Regions from separate parts of the Homo sapiens genome. Here region 2 is linked to region 1. The links come from fine-mapping of genetic effects on gene expression. A gene starts in region 1. The other region holds a variant in brackets. All regions are shown on one strand. Distances are between the middles of the regions.

What was found. PIP is the estimated chance that this variant, and not a neighbour inherited with it, causes the effect. A credible set is the group of variants that fine-mapping cannot tell apart.
Region 2: its variant is the best candidate, but not a certain one, in a credible set for the expression of FOXJ1 in whole blood (TOPMed, PIP 0.86).

Annotation. Positions count from the first base shown.
Region 1 is chr17:76,139,880-76,142,893 of GRCh38, reverse strand. FOXJ1 (forkhead box J1) reads left to right here and starts at 1,649. Exons shown (of 3, transcript NM_001454.4): 1 at 1,649-1,780; 2 at 2,330-2,996. The coding sequence starts at 2,499. It overlaps RNF157 (ring finger protein 157), which reads left to right. Exons shown (of 19, transcript NM_052916.3): 19 at 1-420. RNF157-AS1 (RNF157 antisense RNA 1) reads right to left here and starts at 2,338. Exons shown (of 8, transcript NR_040017.1): 1 at 2,214-2,338. RefSeq lists silencers at 1,654-1,813, 2,492-2,561, 2,622-2,811.
Region 2 is chr17:76,067,334-76,069,833 of GRCh38, reverse strand. All of the region lies in intron 2 of SRP68 (signal recognition particle 68), which reads left to right. Among named protein-coding and RNA genes, the nearest start is that of SRP68, 3.9 kb to the left of the region's middle. The variant T/C (reference allele first, on the strand shown) is at 1,364.

The DNA of each region.
Region 1 (3,014 bases):
GGCTCCTTCCTGCTGCACTAGGCCTGTGCTCTCCCTATTGCCTTCAGGTGGTGTGATCCCGGCTTCCTCACAGAGCCCTTTTTTCCTTCTGCCCAGCTCCATCCCACCAGAGTTTCTACCCCCGCTGAGGCATCTCCTGGGCACAGACCACCACACTCTAAGCCGGCTGGCCTGGGAGTTAGGGTCCTGCCCACCTCACCTGGGAGTTGGGGTCCTGCCCACCTGGAGTTTAGCACGCTGGTCGCTCACTTTGCTTTGGTCTGCACACCTGGTGTGTGCATGTGTATACTGCTTGTGCCATCTGTGTACCCCTCTCCCTGGAGTACACTTGTGGTCACACTACAGTGGGGACATCAAGAATGCAATATTTATGGATTGCTGCATGATTCTTAAAAATGAATAAAACTGTTTACAAGGGAAGGAGAGCTAACTGCAAAGTGAGCTTATCTGTGAAAGTTTCTGTCTGACTTTCGCCAGCACTCTTTAATACTTTTACTCAAGAGGATCTGGAGTTGGAGGAGTGGGAGAGGCAAGGGCTAGGGAAAGGCATGTTGGCGGGGGAGTGATGCGCCATAGCCGGGCCTTCTTCATGGTCTGGGCACCAGCCTCCCCGACCCCGGCTCTCCAGCTCCTGGGCAGAGGCGGGGTAATCAACCCAGCCCCCACCACTGCCTCTGCAGCCGCCTTAAACCGGAGAACGTCCAACCCTGCAGCTCCTCAATAATTAAAGAGCAGGAAAGCTGGTGACAGGAGGGAGGCCAGGGGAAGGGAGGAGGAAGGGACACAGTCCCCAGAGTCCCTCTACTCTTAATCCCTGTGACTTAAAGGTTGGTGAAATTAATTGGGCAAATGACCCCGCTAGGAGAATTTGACAAGTCCATGACTTCAGAGTTTTACCCACGGGCTCTGCTTCATCAGCTGTCTCCAGAGGAGTGAGTGCGCTTCTGCAGAAGCCTCTGGAATGTCAGCTTCCTGGAACCTCGAGGATACGGGTGGGGAAGGAGCTGCTTACTGGGACACACTGGATTACCCTACCCCCTTGGTGTGTCTGCCGCCTCTGTGGATGTAAGCGGCAGGTGGCATCGGAAAGTCAGACCTGCCTGGGACACCAGAGAAAGACCCTAAGAGTCGGGGGAGAGGGAAAGGCTGCAGAAACATGAGAAAGTGCCACTCGTAGCGGAGAGGAAAGAAAACCTCAAGGATACGGTTCCCGAGCCTGAGCCCGCTCCCAGCCTTAGCCCCCCAACCCCAGGCTCCGTCCCAGGAGCAGTCGACGCCTCAAAGCGTACGGGACAGGAAGGGGGTGGGGGCGAGAGTCTTGGTTCCCCAGAACGAACGGATCCATAGCGGTTCCCGGTGCCGCAGGCCGCGCGCTTCTCCGACCCCAGCGCGGGGCCCTCGGGCGGGAATGAGCCGAGCCGGGACTTAGCGGCGGGTAGGGGGTTGGGTGGCGCGGGAGAGGGCGGCAGAAGGAGGGAGTTCGAAGAGAGTTGCCGCCAGGGAGAGTGGCAAGTGCCCGCGGTCTCCTTGGAGACGTGCTGGCCAATGGCAGAGGCGGAAGCTGTTTATGGGGGCGGAGCGTCGCCATGGCAGCAGGAGAAGCCTTTGGAGCGGCTACTTAATGCCGGTCCCGGGGCCGCGGTAGCTCAGAGAAGCGCCGTCGGGCGGGGGGGCGGCAAGAGGCGCTGGCAGGGCCCCCGAGCTGGGGGCAGAGAGCCGCAGGGGGTGGGAGCAACTTCTTCCAGAACCTTCCTCTGGCCCGGGCTGCGCTCTGAGCCAGGTAAGGGATGGGGAGGGCTGCAGGCCAGGGGGAAGGGTGGGCAACGGTACCAACCCGCTCTCTCATTCGTCCTTAACGGAAGTGGTGGGCCCAGGGACTGACATCGGAGAAGTCTGGGGGAAACTCGCCTCCTGCCCCCCGTTACTGTTCCGTCCCCTTCCTTCCCAATGATCCCCTATCATAATATTCCTTTTCAAGGATCAGAGGACCTCCACCGCCCCCGCCCCGTCGTACCGCCCTCCCAAACTTCTCGCCCCACTTCCATTTGTTGCGAGGAGGAAGGGGGTCCTGATTTCCTGCTCTTCGGGAGAAAAGGATAGCCTCGGATGCCCCTACCCTCTTCATTTGGCTAATAAAACCTCGAAGAGGAAAGGAAGAGGGAGGCAGATCTGATGGGGGTGGGACCCCAGGGCCTTGCTTCTGTTTCCCATACCTCGGCACTAAAAGATCCTCCCCAGCTGCGGGGATGATGTTAGAGAGGGCGTCCCCGTACACACACTGTCCCCTCGGGGGTGGGGTAGTGCTCAGCTCCCACCGTGGTCCTCGCAGGCACCACATACTTATTCGGAGGAGGCGCCCCCGGGGTCGCGAGATGGAAGCGCGCGTCCGGGAGGCCGTGTAACGGGAGCTGCGGGACTCAGCGGGCCAGAGAGCGCGGCGGGCCACCCCCGGCTCAGCCCGTGGATGCTGACCGCCCCCTCGGAGAGTCCCCGCAGACATGGCGGAGAGCTGGCTGCGCCTCTCGGGAGCCGGGCCGGCGGAGGAGGCCGGGCCGGAGGGCGGCCTGGAGGAGCCCGACGCCCTGGATGACAGCCTGACCAGCCTGCAGTGGCTGCAGGAATTCTCCATTCTCAACGCCAAGGCCCCCGCCCTGCCCCCGGGGGGCACCGACCCCCACGGCTACCACCAGGTGCCAGGTTCAGCGGCGCCCGGGTCCCCCCTGGCGGCCGACCCCGCCTGCCTGGGGCAGCCACACACGCCGGGCAAGCCCACGTCGTCGTGCACGTCGCGGAGCGCGCCCCCGGGGCTGCAGGCCCCACCCCCCGACGACGTGGACTACGCCACCAATCCGCACGTGAAGCCTCCCTACTCGTATGCCACGCTCATCTGCATGGCCATGCAGGCCAGCAAGGCCACCAAGATCACCCTGTCGGCCATCTACAAGTGGATCACGGACAACTTCTGCTACTTCCGCCACGCAGATCCCACCTGGCAGGTAGAGGAGGCACGGGCG
Region 2 (2,500 bases), 73 kb after region 1:
AAGTGTTGGAATTACAGGCGTGAGCCACCGTGTCTGGCCTATTTCTTTTTTTTTTTTTCTTTTAAATAATCTATACCCTGGTAGCTTTGATTGAGATGCTGAAGTAGTATTTATTTTATTTATTTTTGATACGGAGTCTCACTCTGTTGCCCAGGCTGGAGTATAGTGGCGCGATCTCGGCTCACTGCAACCTCCGCCTCCCGGGTTCAAGTGATTCTTCTGCCTCAGCCTCCTGAGTGGCTGGGACTGAAGGCACATGCCACCATGCCCGGCTAATTTTTAGTAGAGACAAGATTTCACCATGTTGGCCAGGCTGGTCTTGAACTCCTGACCTCAGGTGATCCACCTGCCTCAGCCTCCCAAAGTACTGGGATTACGGGTGTGAGCCAATGTGCCTGGCCTATTTATTTATTTTTATTTCATTTTATTTATTTACTTATTTTTTTGAGACAGAGTCTTTGTCTGTCACCCAGTCTGGAATGCAGTGGCACGATCTCGGTGTACTGCAACCTCCGCCTTCCGGGTTCAAGCAGTTCTCCTGCCTCAGCCTCCCGAGTACCTGGGACTACAGGCATGCACCACCATGCCTGGCTAATTTTTGTATTTTTAGTAGAGATGGGGTTTCACCATGTTGCCCAGGCTGGTCTCGAACTCCTGACCTCAAGTGATCTGCCTGCCTCAGCCTCCCAAAGTGCTAGGATTACAGGCGTGAACCACCACGCCCGGCCCCTGAAGTAGTATTGAAATATCATTTTGTATTGTAAATTATGTGCTGTATTACTTTGACTTAAAGGTTGGTGCAATTTTATATATATATATATTTATTTATTTATATATATATTTTAAACTAATTTAGTCAAAATGTATGTATTGAACATCTGCATATTAGACACTGTGGTAAGGCATTGTGGAAAATTTAAAAATGAAATCCTAGCTGGAATGGTGGCACATGCCATAGTGCCAGTTACTTGGGAGGATGAGGCCCGAGAATTGCTTAAGCCCCGGAGTTCGAGCCCAGCCTGGGCAACAGCAACATAGTGAGACTCTGTCTCAAAAAAATAATTCTCCCTGCACTAAAGGGATTTATATTAGTGGACAACTATGTGAGAACATAATTATAATGTCACACACTGTAATAGAAGGAAGAATAAAGAGCTACATGAGCATAGAGGAGGAGGCTTGGCATAGAGGTGACATTTGTAGTGCTTCTTGGCGATAACCTAATTGGCTTCCTCACTTTTCTTCAGACCTGCCTGCAGTTCTTTCTCCATATGTTTGGTGTCATCTTAGTCTTCCTCAGGATGCCCCTTTCCCTGCTTTCTTTACATTTATTAGAATCCTCCTCATTCTTCTTCTTCTTCTT[T/C]TTTTTTTTTTTTTTCAGACACAGTCTTGCTCTGTTGCCTAGGCTGGAGTGCAATGGCGTGTTCTCGGCTCACTGCAACCTCCACCTCCCGGGTTTAAGCAGTTCTCTGCCTCAGCCTCCCGAGTAGCTAGAATTATAGGCGCCCGCCCGCCATGCCTGGCTAATTTTTTTTTTTTTCGAGACGGAGTTTTACTGTTGTTGCCCAGGCTGAAGTGCAATGGCGCAATCTTGGCTCAACGCAACCCCCACCTCCTGAGTTTAAGCGAATGTCCTGCCTCATCCTCCCGAGTAGGCTGGGATTACAGGCATGTGCCACCACAACTGGCTAATTTTGTATTTTTAGTAGAGACGGGGTTTCTGCATGTTGGGCAGGCTGGTCTCGAACTCTTGACATCAAGTGATCCGCCCACCTCGGCCTCCCAAAGTGCTGGGATTACAGGTGTGAGCCACTGCACCCAGCCCCTCATTCTTTCTAGGCCCCGCCATCAGTCCACTGCAGCTGAAGGTGCTAACAAGAGAATGATTACCCATGTCCTTTCAACTTGACATTTGCCTTGTTTTCTTGGTTGCCATTTTCTCTGCATGATTCTACTCAATTTTAATGTGGGTTCCTTGAACATGGGCACTGTGTCCTCCATCTCTTTGTGTTTCCTATAATACCAATCATATTGCCCTCCATGTTTTAGTTGTTCAATAAATGTTTAGGGCCGGGTATGGTGGCTCATGCCTGTAATCCCAGCACTTTGGAAGGCTGGGGTGGGCGGATTGCTGGAGTCCAAGGATTTCGAGACCAGCCTGGGTGACATAGTGAAACCCTGTCTCTACAAAAAGTACAAAAATTAGCCATGTGTGGTGGTACACCTCTGTTGGTCACATCTACCCAGGAGGCTGAGGTGGGAGGATTGACTGAGCCTGGCTGCAGTGAGCCAAGATCACACCACTGCACTCCAGCCTGGGTGACAGAGCCAGACTCTGTCTCAAAGAAAAGAAAAAAATGTTTGGAAGCTGATATGTGATAATTCTAGTAACCATAAGTATAATATCCCAAACCATTGACCCTTGACCTTGCCTTATTGCAGAATTTATTATTCAAAATACTCTCAGCTTGGCTGAGTGAGTTTTGTTTGTGGTTTCTTA